Linked DNA regions of Homo sapiens: regions 2 and 3 are each linked to region 1. The links come from fine-mapping of genetic effects on gene expression. A gene starts in region 1. Each other region holds a variant in brackets. All regions are shown on one strand. Distances are between the middles of the regions. Region 1 holds the start of NIPA1 (NIPA magnesium transporter 1). Region 2 overlaps NIPA1 (NIPA magnesium transporter 1). Region 3 overlaps NIPA1 (NIPA magnesium transporter 1).

Region 1 (6,227 bases):
GAAAAGAAAAGAAAAAAAAGAAAAATCTCCCCTCTCCAAAAATCTCCCGGCATTTCTACAGAAGTCTCTACCTAGGTAAGGAGAAGAAACAATTCTTGGCCGGGTACAGTGGCTCACGCCTGTAATCCCAGCACTTTGGGAGGCCGAAGCTGGTGGATCACGAAGTCAGTAGTTCAAGACCAGCCTGGCCGAGATGGTGAAACCCTGTCTCTACTAAAAATACAAAAAAATTCGCCAGGCGTGGTGGCAGGCGTCTGTAATCCCAGCTACTTGGGAGGCTGAAGCAGAGAATTGGTTGAACCCATGAAGCGTAGGTTGCAGTGAGCCAAGATCACGCCACTGCACTCCAGCCTGGGTGACAGAGCAAGACTCCATCTCAAAACATAAGACGAAAAAAAAATTTTTTAGGGAGCTGAAAAGTGAACTGATTTCCTCATTTCTCCTTGCAAGGAATCAATTGATAGCCCAAAATTGAAACCCAGAGTTAAAATAAACGTAACTCCCACCCTCTTAGTGTTTCTCACTTTTTTTTTTTTTTTTTTGAGACAGGGTCTCACTTCTGTTGCCCAGGCTGGAGTGCAGTGGCGTGATCATGGCTCACTGTAGCCTCAACTTCTGGGGTCAAGTGATCCTCCCATAGCCTCCTGAGTAGCTGGGACTACAAGCACATGTCACCATGCCTGGCTAATTTTTGTATTTTTTTGCAGAGATGGGGTTTCATCATGTTGCCCAGGCTGATCTCAAACTCCTGGGCTCAAGTGATCTGCTGGCCTTGGCCTCCCAAAGTACTGGGATTATAGGCATGAGCCACTGTACCTGGCCTACTAACTTTAATTTTAGGTGTATCTTTTAGGAAGTAATATCTCATGGCAAAATAATGTTTGTCATTCAGTAGTTACTGTAGTTTCATTTCAGTTTTTCTTTTGTTAAATTCAAGCAAAATATAGTTTTATGTTTTTAATTAAAATCCCATATGTGTTTCCCCATCAGATAAAATATGCCTGTCATTTAACCTATGTACTCACATGGAAAAATGTCTGGGGTGGAGTTCTTTTTTTTTTCTTTTTTTTTTTGAGACGGAGTCTCACTCCGTCGCCCAGGCTGGAGTGCAGTGGTGCCATCTCGGCTCACTGCAAGCTCCGCCTCCCGGGTTCACGCCATTCTCCTGCCTCAGCCTCCTGAGTAGCTGGGACTACAGGCGCCCTCCACCATGCCCGGCTAATTTTTTGTATTTTTAGTAGAGACCGGGTTTCATCGTGTTAGCTAGGATGGTCTCGATCTCTTGACCTCCTGATCCATCCACCTGACCTCCGGATCCGTCCGCCTCCGCCTCCCAAAGTGCTGGGATTACAGTCATGAGCCACCTCCCCGGCCCTATTTTATATTTCTTCACAAAATAATAATGCTGTATGCAAAGCTGCCAAAAGGTTTATACTTTTCGTTTGTTTTTGAGACAATCTTGCTCTGTTGCCCAGGCTGGAGTGCAGTGGTGCAATAACAGCTCACTGCAACCTCCACCTCAAGCCATCCTCCCACCTCTGCCTCCAGAGTATCTGGGGTTGGAGGTAAAAGCCACCACGCCCCGCTAATTAATTTTTTTCTTTTTTTGGTAGAGACGGGTCTCGCTACGTTGCCCAGGCTGGTCTTGAACGTCTGAGCTCAAGCGAGCCTCCCACCTCGGTCCCCAAAGTGCTGGGATTATAGGTGTGAGCCACTGTGCCCAGCTTGTAGCATCGTTTATAGACAACAAAACCTGGCAGCAACCGGCCAGGCGCGGTGGTTCACGCCTGTAATCCCAGCACTTTGGGAGGTAGAGCGGACGGATCACCTGAGGTCAGGAGTTCAAGACCAGCCTTGCCAAGATGGTGAAACCGCGTCTCTACTCAAAATACAAAAATTAACCCGGGCGTGGTGGCGGACGCCTGTAATTCTAGATACTCGGAGGCTGAGGCCGAGAATCGCTTGAATCCGGGAGGCGGAAGGTTGCAGTGAGCCGAGATCGCGCCATTGCACTCCAGCCTGGGCGACAGAGCGAGACTCTGTCTCAAAAAAACAAACCAACCTGGTAGCTACCTAACACCCAACAATGGCTGAATGGTTAGACAAATTATTATACTGTCATTAGAATAATCATATTTATGTACCGATACAGAAACTGATATATATTAAATAAAAAGGAAATTTCGTATATTGTAATTGGAAACATGTAAAAGTATGTATACATTATGGGAAAACACCTAAAATACTAATAATTAGGTGAGGGTTGTGGAATTGAGTCACTTTAAAAAATATTTTTTTCCAAAAAAAATAAAATAACTTTTTCCTATTTTTCAAGCTTGTAATTTTGTTGTTGTTTCTTTTTTTTTTTTTTTTTGAGACGGAGTCTCGCTCTGTCGCCCAGGCTCGAGTGCAGTTGTGTGATCTCCGCTCACTGCAAGCTCTGCCTCCCGGGTTCACACCCTTCTCCTGGCTCAGCCTCCCGAGTAGCTGGGACTACAGGCCTCCGCCACGACGCCCAGCTAATTTTTTGTATTTTTAGTAGAGACGGGGTTTCACTGTGTTAGCCAGGATGGTCTCGATCTCCTGACCTTGTGATCCACCCGCCTCGGCCTCCCGAAGTGCTGGGATTACAGGCGTGAGCCACCGCGCCCGGCTTGTTGTAGTTTATTAAAACGAGGAAACTAGACTATGGGATCACAAGCCCAGAGCCCCATGTAGCTGACTCTAGCGCCAAGGGCGGAAGAGAAACGCCCAGCGCCAGGGCTCTCCTTCGATCTCTGCAGCGGCGCGCCGGGCTTCGCGCTCCGGTGAGTTGGGCCGGCCTCCGCTGGAGGCTCTTCGGGGACCGCTGCCCGCCGGTGCGTCCTGCCGCGCTCCGCTGCCCGGATATTGCAGAGGACACCACTCAGAAAGTATGCGTGTTTCTCCGCGCTGGAAACTTAACCAGGAGTCCTGCATTTCCATTTGCGAAATCCGGGAACCCCCGCCCCACCCAGCGCCTCACCGGCCCCTCACTGCCGCCGCGTCCGGCGCCACTGCTGTCCCCGCAGCCTAAGGCGCCGGTCCCTGGCACCCCCGTCCCGCCCCCGCCCCTCTTCCTGCTCCTCCCCCACCCGTCCCCCTCCCCTCCCCCGCCCGCGCCTCCCGGTCACCCCCCATCCCGCCCCGCGGGGCGCGGCGCGCAGGCGCAGGCTCGGAGGGCGGGCGCGGGCGGAATGGGGACTGCAGCTGCGGCAGCGGCGGCGGCGGCGGCGGCGGCGGCCGGGGAGGGGGCGCGTAGCCCGAGCCCCGCCGCCGTGTCGCTCGGCCTGGGCGTGGCCGTCGTGTCGAGCCTGGTGAACGGGTCCACGTTCGTGCTACAGAAGAAGGGCATCGTGCGTGCCAAGCGGCGAGGTAGGGCGGGCGGCAGGCGGCAGGCGGCGGGCGGGTGGGGGAGGCGGGCGGCGGAGAAGGCGGTCGCAGGTGGGGGCGCCCGGGTCGGGGCAGGGGACGGGGTCGGGGCCCGGGCCCAGGTTGGGGGAAGGCTGCGCGGGCGGGTGCTCCCCGCGGCGTGCCCAGGCTGCCGCCGCGTCCTGGCGCTCGGGCCCGGGAGCGGCCCAGGAATCACAGGTGCGTCCTGAGCGTCCGGCGCTTCGCCGACGCCACGGCTTTTCTCCGTTCTCAGCGGCTGGAGCGGCTTGCTTTGGTGTGCGGGCTTCCCCGGCTGACTTTTTCCCTCGGTCCAAGACCTGCCCCGCGCCGCCCGGCAGCCCTCGCCGTGGCCCGCAACCCGCGGCCGGGAGCCTCCTGCGGACGCGGTGCTGGGGTGCTCGAGCCCAGCGCCCGCCTGGAAGCGCCGCTTCAGCCGATGCGCGGCCCGCTCCTAGGGTACGCTCGGTAGAGCAAGACCTGGGATTTCCAGTCCCCCGCAGGGGCCTCGCTGGTGCAAAAGGAAGACCCGGGCGGGCTCTCAGGGCTGTGCGTTCCTGGGGTGCTCTTACGGAGCCCGCTGCGCCTTAGACCTGCACCAAATGAATACAAGTGATCTTCAGTTTGGAGAACACGCGCGGCAGATCCAAAACCAAGCCCTGGACGGGCCAAGGCCACTTCCCAGGTGGATGTGCCGCAGCACCGCACTCCGTAGTGCTCTGCGGGGTAGAGCTCTCTGTCAGTGTCGTTTGTGCTGGGAGGCCCCGGACGGGACCGGTTTGCCAATGCAGGATATGGCAGGCTGTGAAACAGTCCGTTTCCATTGCTTCCAGAGGGACTGAGAAAGTCTTGTGGTTCTTGGCCATACTCTTAGAAGAAGAATATTAAGAGCTCTCTGGGAAGGATGTGGCCCCCGACTCTTGGGTTGTGAGAGAAAGTGAACTCGTAATTTACATGGCGGAATGCAGGTGAAACTTTCTCTGAGTGAGCCAGGCGTTGGCTTCAGAGAAGAGATAAAGGGCCCGACAGTCTCGAATGAAAATATAAAATCATGGATAATTTAAGGAATTTAGCTTTAAAGTGAAAGCATAGTGGTCTCCCATACAATTTAAATAGAATTAAATAAAACCAAGTATGATTTTCCAAGGATGCAGATGTGTCTGTCTCTAAGGCACACAGATACACACACACCGCAGCCACACTTCAGGGAGCATCTGTCCGTGTGACAGGCCCCAGGACTGGGTGAGATGGTCAACGCGCGTGACCTTATAAATAGGATGGCCTGAGAAAGCACCTCACCTCCCCAATCCACGGCCCTAGCGTAAGCATGAGGAAAACACCACACAAACCGGAGTAGAAGAACATCTTGCGGCCGGGCGCGGTGGCTGGTGCCTGTAGTCCCAGCACTTTGGGAGGCCGAGGCGGGCGGGTCACAAGGTCAGGAGATCTAGACCATCCTGGCTAACACGACGAAACCCCATCTCTACTAAAAATACAAAAAATTATCCCGGTGTGGTGGCACGCACCTGTAGTACCAGCTACTCGAGAGGCTGAGGCAGGAGAGTCTCTTGAACCCGGGAGACAGAGGTTGCAGTGAGCCGGGATCCGCCACTGCACTCAGCCTGGGCGGCAGAGCAAGACTCCATCTCAAAAAAAAAAAAAAAAATCTTGCAGTACACCTGACCAGTCCTCTGTGAAGGTCATGGAATCTGAAAGCACGTCACAACCAGGAGGAGCCTAAGAACACGTGAACACCAGATGTAAGACATTAGGGAAAAACGAAGGAAAGCTGAATACCAGCTTTAGTTAGTTTTCTAAAAAGTTGAGGAAAACTGTGTTATTTCAACCCAGGTCATGTGGCTCAAAGGAATTGGTGAATAGGAAAATAAACAAGCGAGTAGCCTTTTAAAAAAAACATGATAAGCTGGGTGCAGTGGCTCACACCTGTAATCCCAGCTACTCGGGAGGCTGAGGCAGGAGAATTGCTTGAACCCAGGAGGGGGAGGTTGCAGTGAGCCAAAATTGTGCCATTGCACTCCAGCCCGAGCGAGAAGAACAAGGCTCTGTCTTAAAAAAAAAAAAAAAAAAGATAAATGCTGTTTCTTATACCTATATACTATGCTTTCATTCATTTATTTATTTTTTATTATGATTTTTTTTTGAGACGGAGTTTCGCTCTTGTTGCCCAGGCTGGAGTGCAATGGCGCGATCTTGGCTCACTGAACCTCTGCCTCCCGGGTTCAAGCGATTCGCCTGCCACAGCCTCCCGAGCTGGGATTACAGGCGCGTGCCACCATATCTGGCTAATTTTGTGCTTTTACTGGAGATGGGGTTTCATCATGTTGGCCAGGATGGTCCCGAACTCCAGACCTCAGGTGATCTGCCCACCTCAGTCTCCCAAAATGCTGGGATTACAGGCGTGAGCCACCAACACTCGGCCTATATTATGGTTTTAAATTGATCAAAGTGAACTTGTGATTTTCATTATTTATTTTAAGCCCCAGACATTGCATGGTGTTAGGCTTTAGCTCTATGACTCTTCAGAGCCTCCCGTCCAGGAGGCCATTAGCACCTCAGTTCTTCCCGGTCTGGACCCAAGGTCCTTTCCATCCCTGTGAGCCACCCATCAAGGTGAGCTGAGAGACCAGCCGGCGGGGCAGAGTCACTTACGGCTGAGAGGAATTGTTTTGGGATTTGGTTAGTAAGTAGGAGAGAAAAGGAGAAGAAAACTTGTATGGGGGTTGAGCACCTCCCGCCGAAGAAGGCGAGGGAGGCATGGAGGTGTCTTACACTAGGGAACATTTCCGAGTCATGTGGCA
Region 2 (5,000 bases), 22 kb after region 1:
GGGTTCACACCATTCTCCTGCCTCAGCCTCCCGAATAGCTGGGACTACAGGCGCCCGCCACCACGCCCAGCTAATTTTTTGTATTTTTAGCAGAGACGGGGTTTCACCGTGTTAGCCAGGATGGTCTTGATCTCCTGACCTTGTGATCCGCCCGCCTCGGCCTCCCAAAGTGCCGGGATTACAGGCGTGAGCCACCGCGCCCGGCCTAAAGCTGTATTTTAAGGACATTTCCGACACATTTATAACTAAATGGAAGGTCTAAAGCCACATGCCCCTGGTTGGACAGCATCACTGTCAGTTGATACTGTCATCCTGGCAAGGCTCTTTTGTGTTTGCACAAACACTTCTTTGTTTTATAGTTTAGCTGTTATAAACAGCTATGCAACTCTCAGCACCCAGGGTTTCCAATGAGAGGAAAACCAATGGAACTTAGCGATCATATCCTCTGCAGCCCACACCTAGGAGTGGGGGAGGAGACGTGAGTGTGGCAAGACAAACAGCATCCTCTGCATCCTTCAGTGCTGCAGCTCCCTGTTGTTGCTGAGGCCGGAGGACCTGCAGATTAATAGAGGACCGTCATCAACTGGGAAGAGGAGAAGCTTGGGCATAGATACCTACTGAGAGTGCTGGCTAATGAGCTTTCGGAACAACAGTGCTTAGGGGCAGCAATGCTTAGGGTGAAACTGTGAAGAAACCCAGTTGTTTTAGATATCCTCACAGATATCTGTATGACGGGCCAAGGGCTAATATGGAATGCAGACTCCTAGGAGCTCCTGGCAAAAGAAGGAGGAGGGAAAATGGAGCAGCCAACTCAGTGAGGAAGCTGGGCACACAGCCATGCACTTCCTGCAGGGCAGAACAGGGGACACCCCTGGACCGAGGCTCTCAGGGACCATGTGCAGGAGCTTCACTTTTGTTTATGGGTAGGGGTATGGGACAGGTACCTGGATGGAGAAAAACCTGACTTGCTTAATGTCTGTGGATGCAGAAAAATTTTGCCTAATACTGGTTTAAAAGGTGAGGGTGACCTATACACCTTTTGATTTGTGCAAATCCAGGCTCTTGATGGAGAGTACAAGTTGCAGGGCCTGAAATGCTTGGAACTGAACTGGACCCTTTGGGAAAAGAACAAAAACCATTTTGTTCACTTTGCCATTCCTGTGTACCTGGTATTCCAGGTTCCTCCTCATTTTGTGACTTTTGACATTTTATAAACTGCCAAAAACATATACTATGTGATGATCAATGTTGGGATAACCATAGCAGTGAAAGGGGGGTGCCTATGGGCCTCATTGCACTGGTCACTGTCATCCTTGACCAGCTTTCACTGTAGGAGGGTCACACAGTCCAGCTGCTGTAGCAGGAATCCCATGACTTCACAAAACGTCCTGACCAAACCATGTTCATTACAATAAAAGGACAGCTGGATGTGGTGGCCCACGCCTGTAATCCCAGCTACTTGGGAGGCTGAGGCAGGAGAATCACTTGAACCTGGGAGATGGAGGTTGCAGTGAACTGAGAGACCATGCCACTACACCCCAGCCTGGGCAACAGAGTGAGACCCTGTCTCAAAAAGAAAAAAAAAATCTAAAAACCCAATAAAAACAAAATCAAAAGTTGGTTCTTTGAAAAGAACAATGAAATTGACAAACCTTTAGCTAGACTGACCAAGCAAAAAAGAAGAATCAAATTACTAAAATCAGGAATGAAAAAGGAGATATTTTCTGTATGCCCTTAGGATAATTTCCACAGAGTTTAAATTCACTTGTGTGTGTGTGTGTGTGTGTGATGGAGTCTCTCTCTGTTGCCCAGGCTGGAGTGCAGTGGCACAATCTCGGCTTACTGCAAGCTCTGCCTCCCAGGTTCATGCCATTTTCCTGCCTCAGCCTCCCAAATAGCTGGGACTACAGGCGCCCACCACCATGCCCAGCTAATTTTTTTTTGTATTTTTTTTAGTAGAGACGGGGTTTCACTGTGTTAGCCGGGATGGTCTCGGTCTCCTGACCTTGTGATCCACCAACTTCGGCCTCGCAAAGTGCTGGGATTACAGGCATGAGCCACTGCACCCGGCCCACTTTGTTAAGTACTTTATTTATTAGTTATGGTGGTTTTGTTGGGAAACTGGTCCACAGACTTTTCACACTAGTATTCTGGACCTGATGACCTTTCACTCAAGTATTCGGCATGCATTTTGGGATAGCCACTTTGATTAGCACATTTAGAAATCTAACATTGATTCTGTATTAATAGCTGACTCTCCTACAGTGCCCACCATGGGACATTCTTAAGCTTCGCTAAACTTTCTGCTTCATAGGACACCCTGGGTCCTGTTTGTATTAGATACACTGAGAGGGACACCAGACAGGAGCCCCAGTGGTGCCAGGCTGTCTTCTCCAGTGGAGCCTGGCAGCAGAGGTAGGGCGTGGCTCAGGGCTGGGAGACAGCCACAGCAGGCAGGTGGCACAACTGATGCTGGGGACTTTGACCACTTGGCTAAGCCAGTGTCCATCAGGCTTATCTATAAAGATAACTTTTTCTGTTCATAATTAATAAGAAAAACCCATGGAGGTGACTCAGTAAATTTTCATTCGCTTGTTTTAGTATCCGTTAATGATTCTTGCCTAAATCAGTTTTTACTGTGATGTGATCAAATAGCAATATTCTTTTTTTTGAGACAGTGTCTCACTCTATCACCCAGGCTGGAATGAAGTGGCATGATCATGGCTAACTGCAGCCTCATCCTCCTGGGCTCAAGCGATTCTTCTGTCTCAGCCTCCTGAATAGCTGGGACCACAGGCATGCACCACCACACCCAGCTAATTTTTAAATTTTTTGTAGAGATAGAGTCTTGCTATGTTGCCCAGGCTGACCTTGAACTCCTAGGCTCAAGTGATCATCCTGCCTCAGGCTTCCAAAATGCTGGCATTACAGGTGTGAGCC[G/A]CCGGGCCCAGCCCCCATTTCATTTTGTAAGTACTTTTTCTAATACTTGTAGCTCTGCTGCTCCATTAAGCAGGCTAGCAGGCTATGTGTCTTATACCAAATTGTGGTTTTCCTACTGAGAATAAAAACAATTAGAATTAGTTACTGTGGCTGGGCACGGTGATTCACTCCTGTAATCACAGCACTTTGGGAGGCTGAGGTGGGTGGATCACTTGGAGCCAGGAATTGAAGACCAGCCTGGCCAATATAGCAAAACCCCCTCTCTACTAAAAATACAAAAATTAGCCGCACGTGGTGGTGCACGCCTGTAATCCCAGCTACTTGGGAGGCTGAAGCATGAGAATTGCTTGAACCCAGGAGGCAGAGGTTGTAGTCAGCTGAGATCGTGCCACTGCACTCCAGCCTCAGCGACAGAGTGATACTCCATCTCAAAAAAAGGAAAAGGAAAAAAGAATTCATTACTGTAATCTGTGGTTAACAACAAAAAATCTCCTCAAAAAATGCTTAGCAGGCCAGGCGTGCTGCACACCTGTAATCCAGCAGTTTGGGAGTCTGAGGCAGGCGGATCACCTGAGGTCAGGAGTTCGAGACCAGCCTGACCAATTTGGTGAAACCCCGTCTCTACTAAAAATTCAAAAATTAGCCAGGTGTGGTGGCATGCTCCTGTAGTCTCAGCTACTCGGGAGGCTGAGACGGGAGAATTGTTTGAACCCGGAAAGTGGAGGTTTCAGTGAGTCAACATCGCACCAGTGCATTCCAGCCTGGGTGACAGAGTGAGACTCTGTCTGAAAAAAAAAAAAAGGCCAGGCGCGGTGGCTCACACCTGTAATCCCAGCATTTTGGGAGGCCGAGGTGGGCGGATCACCTGAGATCGGGAGTTCAAGATCAGCCTGACCAACGTGGAGAAACCTCGTCTCTACTAAAAAAAAATACAAAATTAGCTGGGCATGGTGGCACATGCCTGTAATCCCAGCTACTAGGGAGGGTGAGGCAGGAGAATCGCTTGAACCTGGGAGGAGGCGGAGGTTGCGGTGAGCCGACATCGCGCCATTGCACTCCAGCCTGGGCAACAAGAGTGAAACTCTGCCTCAAAAAAAAAAGTGCTTAGGAGCATTTTGCCATATCTGAAGGACAAACCTGTCTCAAAGGTTGGGAGACCTCTCACCATACACACCTGTCAAGAGGCAGGGGGAGGGAGGAAGGTGCTGGGGCTCCGCCTGCCCTGCGTGGGATGGGTGGGGTAACCTGAGAGGATGCCGGCAAGTCTCAGGTCAAATGTCAGAGCATCAGGTGAGTGTAAGGATGTGGTTCCCGCATGGCTGAAAGAAGAGTCGTATCAGAAGAGTTATAAATAATGAAAATTGAGTGACTTGTTTAAGCAGGAAGTCAAACCCTATGATAATAAAATTCTTATATAAATGGACTACAGTAAATGCATGAGAGAGTTGGACTTTAAAGACTCAAACCCTTTTGAGATAAAAATAAAACTCCATCAAAGGAATATCTTTGTGGTAGCTTGTTGGGTGAAAGAAAACTGATGTATAAAGATCTCATTTCCTTATTTGGGTCAGCCTGTGTTGGTTGCAAAAAATATCTTGACTTTGCCACTTTCGGTGGTCTCTAATGCTGCCATTTATAGATGAAAGATTCTCTTTAGGGTGAATAAACAGTATGACATTCATTCTTTTCAATTTTAGTTTTCATGTCAAAAGTTTCTCGCTTGTAAACCTCTTCCTGATATACGTAGCTGGTAAACCCACTTTTCTGACATTTTTTATCTCATTTTTTATAGGTACTTCCTATTTAACAGACATTGTGTGGTGGGCTGGCACAATCGCAAGTAAGTAGCCTGTGTGGCGAAGTCTGGTCTTTTCCTTTCTTAGAATCCATCACTGGTCTGGGCAGGGCTGGAGTGGCTGGGCTAGGGTGGCTCTGTTCTTTGGAAGAGGGTGTCGCGTGGCCTCTCCCCAGGCCCTAAGCGTGCCTTTCAGTTCGGATGTCCCTGCCTCCCCAGGGCACTCTCCCTGCTCCCCTTCCTCCCAGGATGAGAGTGCAGAAGG
Region 3 (5,000 bases), 32 kb after region 1:
GGTGACAGAGCAAAACTCTGTCCCTCCCCCGCCCCCCAAAAAAACAAAGAAAAGATAAAGCTCATTAAAAAAACAACTATGAACTAATTCTCTTATGAATATAGATGGAGAAATTTTGAACAAAATACTAACCAGTTGGATCCAGCAATATATAAAAAGGATTATACAAGTGGGATTTATCCCAGAAATGCAAAGTAGATTTAGCATTGAAAATAAATTAGTGTAATATACCACAGCAATAGAATAATCACCATGTGATCATCTCAAAAGACACACAAAAATTATGTGGTACAATTCAATACTCTTTCATGACGAAAACTCTCAATATGCTAGGCATAGAAAATAACTTCCTAAACTGACAAAGGGCCTCTGTCAAAGTACCCCAGCTAACATCATACTTAATGGCACAAGGGTTGATGTTTTCCCCTTAAGATCAGGAAGAAAATAAGCTGCCTACTTTCACCTCATCTATTCATCATTGTACTGGATGTTATAGCCACAGCAATTAGGTAAGCAAACAAATTAAAAGGCATCCATATTGGAAAGGAAAGGAAGAATTTAATTGCCTTTATTGGCAGAAGACCTGATTTTTTTTTTTTTTTTTTTTTTTTTTTTTGAGACAGAGTCTCACTCTGTCACCAGGCTAGAGTTCAGTTGTGTGATCTTGGCTCACTGCAACCTCCACCTCCCGGGTTCAAGTGATTCTCCTTCCTCAGCCTCCCGAGTAGCTGGGACTACAGGCGCGTACCACCATGCCCAGCTAATTTTTGTATTTTTAGTAGAGACGGGGTTTCACCATGTTAGCCAGGATGGTCTTGATTTCCTGACCTTGTGGTCTGCCTGCCTCGGCCTCCCAAAGTGCTGGGATTACAGGTGTGAGCCACCGCACCCAGCCTTTTTTTTTTTTTTTTTTTTTTTCAGATGGAGTCTCACTCTGTCACCCAGGCTGGAGTGCAGTGGTGTGCTGTCGGCTCACTGCAACCTCGGCCTCCTGGGTTCAAGTGATTCTCCTGCCTCAGCCTCCGAGGAGCTTGGATTACAGGTGCCCACCACCACGCCCAGCTAATTTTTGTATTTTTAGTAGAGATGGGGTTTTGCCATGTTGGCTAGGCTAGTCTTGAACTCCTGACTTTAGGTGATCCACCCACTTTGGCCTCCCAAAGTGCTGGGATTACAGGCATGAGCCACCACACCCAGCAGAGGACCTGATCTTATATAGAGAGTCCTAAAGAATCACTAAGAAATTATTAGAACTAATAAGTTTAGCAAGGTCGATGGACACAAGATCACTATATAAAAATTACATCTGAGGCCGGGCGTAGTGGCTCACTCCTGTAATCCCAGCACTCTGGGAGGCTGAGACGGGAAGATCACCTGAGGTCAGGAGTTAGAGACCAGCCTGGCCAACATGGTGAAACCCCATCTCTACAAAAATACAAAAAAAAATCAGCCAGGTGTGGTGGCACATGCCTGTAGTCCCAGCTACTCAGGAGGCTGAGGCAGGAGAATTGCTTAAACCCAGGAGGTAGAGGTTACAGTGAGCCGAGATTGTGCCACTGCACTCCAGCCCAGGCAACAGAGTGAGACTCTGTCTCAAAAAAAAAAAAAAAAAAAAAAAATTACATCTGCCAGGCGCAGTGGCTCAGGCCTGTAATCCCAGCACTTTGGGAGGCTGAGGTGGGTGGATCACCTGAGGTAAGGAGTTCGAGATCAGCCTGACCAACGTGGTGAAACCCCGTCTCTCATAAAAATACAAAATTAGCCAAGCATGGTGGCGCATGCCTGTAATCCCAGCCACTCGGGAGGCTGAGGCAGGAGAATCGCTTGAACCCAGTAGGCAGAGGTTGCAGTGAGCCGAGATCGGGCCATTGCACTCCAGCCTGGGCAACAAAAGCGAAACTCCGTCTCAAAAAAAAAAAAAAAAATTACGGCTGGGCACAGTGGCTGATGCCTGTAATCCCAGCACTTTGGGAGGCTGAGGTGGGTGGATCACGAGGTCAGGAGATCAAGACCATCCTGGCTAACACGGTGAAACCCCATCTCTACTAAAAGAAATACAAAAAATTAGC[C/T]GGGCGTAGTGGCAGGCACCTGTAGTCCCAGCTACTCGGGAGGCTGAGGCAGGAGAATGGCGTGAACCCGGGAGGCGGAGCTTGCAGTGAGCTGAGATCGTGCCACTGCACTTCAGCCTGAGTGACAGAGCGAGACTGTGTCTCAAAGAAAAAAAAAAAAAATTGCATCTATATACAGTAGCAGTGAGCAAACCAAAAATGAAATTAAGAAAGCAATTTCATATGCAGTAGCACCAAAATGATGAAATACTTAAGAATAAATTTAACTGGCCAGGCACAGTGGCTTATGCCTTCAATTCCCACACTTTGGGAGGCCCAGGCAGGTGGATCACGAAGGGCACAAACAACAGAAGGAAAATAGATAAATTCGATGTCATCAAAATTAAAAACCTTTCTGCTTAAAAGGATGCCATCAATGAATTGAAAACTCGTGGGAGAAAAAATTTCAAAGTATATATCTGATAAGGGACTTGTAGTTAGAACACATAAAAACTCTTGCCGGTCGTGGTGGCTCACGCCTGTAATCCCAGCACTTTGGGAGGCCGAGGCGGGTGGATCATGAGATCAGGAGTTCGAGACCAGCCTGGCCAACATGGTAAAACTCCGTCTCTACTAAATACAAAAAATTAGCCTGGTGTGGTGGCACATGCCTGTAATCCCAGCTACTTGGGAGGCTGAGGCAGGAGAATTGTTTGACCTCAGGAGGTGGAGGTTCCATTGAGCCGAGATTGCGCCATTGCACTCCAGCCTGGGCACCAAGAGGGAAACTCTGTCTCAACAAAAGAAAACGAAACAGAAACTCTTACAGTGCATCAGTAAAAAGTCAGATAACCCAATTTAAAAATGGCACTGTCAGCCAGGCGCAGTGGCTCATGCCTATAATCCCAGCACTTTGGGAGGCGAGGCGGGTGAATCACTTGAGGTCAGGAGTTTGAGACCAGCCTGGCCAACATGGTGAAACCCCGTCCTTACTAAAAATACAAAAATCCCCCAGGGCATGGTGGCGGGCATCTGTAATCCCAGCTACTCGGGAGGCTGAGGCAGGAGAATTGCTTGAACCCGGGAGGCAGAGGTTGCAGTGAGTCGAGACTGCTCCACTGCACTCCAGCCTGGGTCACAGAGTGAGACTCTGTCTCAATAAATGAATGAATGAATGAATGAAAATGGCACTGTCCTCTGGTATTCCACAATGGAATAAGAGATGATTTGGCCTCGTGGCTCATACTGTCCACTTTCGTGCATGGCAACCCTTTCCCATCTTGGCATAGTCCACCCGTTGTCCGAGGCCAGTTCCAGGCCCACTTTTTGCCCTGTGAGCCCCCTGCATTTCTGGTTTCTCCTTTTCCAGGCAGCTACTCGGTGGAGCTTCTCTATTTAACATCTAGTTGTGTATTCATGTCTTTTGTTGTTTCTTTCAGTGATGTTGCTTATTTCCCCAATGACACTGTTGGGAGCTTCTTAAGAACAGGCTGTCTAGGGACAAGGATGTGAAGTGGTACAAGGGAAAAGTAGGCCGTTTAGGACCTGTGGGTGTGTCATGACCGTGCTTGTATCTCTTGTTAGCTTTGTGGCCTTAGGTTCAATGCTGACCCTTTCTGAGGCTCAAGTTTCCTTATCTTTAAAATAGGTATTAAAGGAAGTAATCCGGTCCATACCTGAGCCTGGTATGCCCTCCTCCCGGACGTTCCTGTTTTCTGATCGTCTTCAGCACAGACATGAGTAAAGTGACAATGACCAGTCCTGTGACTTACTGAGGGCAAGGTGTTCCAATTCAGATTGTATACTGATAATTACACAGGGAAATAAGAGAAGAAACAAGTTAGAAGCCTGGAGATTATAGATGTTTTTGAAGAATACATTTTTTTGCATTAATAATGTGACCAGTTTTTAAAAGTTTTCAGTATTAGAGGAAATAGCCACCCCATACTACTTCTACTACTGCAATTACTATTAGCATTTTTATTTTTTCTTTTGTTTGTGCATTTTTCACTTAATTTATTTTGTTTTTATCATGCATTACTTATAATTATTTTGACAGTTTTTGTACCCTACTTTTCCATGTAGCATAGATATTAGTATTTTTGATTGGTTCCTTTTATAAGAAAGGAAGCATTACTTTTATTTTTGGTCAGTCATAAAACTTTTTATACTCTGGTGTATTTTATATGTGCTGACATAGTAATATAGTGGTGTAAATTATGTGTATCATTAACTACGTAGTGGTTATACATGGAATTGGTGTGAAAATCCTGGCCAGGCATGGTGGCTCACACCTATAATTCCAGCACTTTGGGAGTCCAAGGCAAGAGGATCGTTTGAGCCCAGGAGTTTGAGACTTGCCTGGGCAATCTAGTGAGACCCAGTCTCTACACAAAATTTTTAAAAAATTAGCTGGGTGTGGTGGCATGCACCTGTAGTCCCAGCTACTCCGGTGGCTGAGGTAGGAGGATCACTTGAGCCCAGGAGTTCAAGCTTGTGGTGAGCTGTGATTGCACCACTGCACTCCAGCCTGGGCAACAGAGTGGGAGGTGGTCTCTTAAAGGGAAAAAAAGAAGAAAAAGAAAATGGTTTTTCTAGATAAAATATCTGCTGTTAGAAGAAAGGTCAGGTAGTTTGGTTTAAACTTTAATGATTTCTCTTTTTTCAATAAAGGTCCATTTTAGCTTCCTATCTCCTGAAGGAAAAGCTCAACATCTTGGGCAAGTTGGGGTGCCTGCTAAGCTGTGCAGGCTCCGTCGTGCTGATTATCCACTCCCCAAAGTCTGAGAGTGTGACAACTCAGGCTGAGCTGGAGGAAAAGCTGACCAATCCAGGTAATTCCTTTCTAGCAGCACTGCCAAGAAAGTTTGCAGTAGGAGTGCCAACTTTTTTAACCACGTCTTCAAATTGGATGCTTCCTGGCAGGGCAGAGGAACCGTGTGTCCACCCTGA

Evidence for each region. PIP is the estimated chance that this variant, and not a neighbour inherited with it, causes the effect.
Region 2: its variant is fine-mapped to the expression of NIPA1 in tibial nerve (GTEx, PIP 0.99).
Region 3: its variant is fine-mapped to the expression of NIPA1 in whole blood (TOPMed, PIP above 0.99).

The regions. Positions count from the first base shown.
Region 1 is chr15:22,783,442-22,789,668 of GRCh38, forward strand. It overlaps NIPA1 (NIPA magnesium transporter 1), which reads left to right and starts at 3,203. Exons shown (of 5, transcript NM_144599.5): 1 at 3,203-3,393. The coding sequence starts at 3,216. RefSeq lists silencers at 2,875-3,108, 3,071-3,430, 3,501-3,650, 3,661-3,790 and an enhancer at 4,141-4,250.
Region 2 is chr15:22,806,017-22,811,016 of GRCh38, forward strand. It overlaps NIPA1 (NIPA magnesium transporter 1), which reads left to right. Exons shown (of 5, transcript NM_144599.5): 2 at 4,733-4,780. Among named protein-coding and RNA genes, the nearest start is that of NIPA1, 22 kb to the left of the region's middle. The variant G/A (reference allele first, on the strand shown) is at 2,941.
Region 3 is chr15:22,815,592-22,820,591 of GRCh38, forward strand. It overlaps NIPA1 (NIPA magnesium transporter 1), which reads left to right. Exons shown (of 5, transcript NM_144599.5): 4 at 4,722-4,882. Among named protein-coding and RNA genes, the nearest start is that of NIPA2, 21 kb to the right of the region's middle. The variant C/T (reference allele first, on the strand shown) is at 2,070.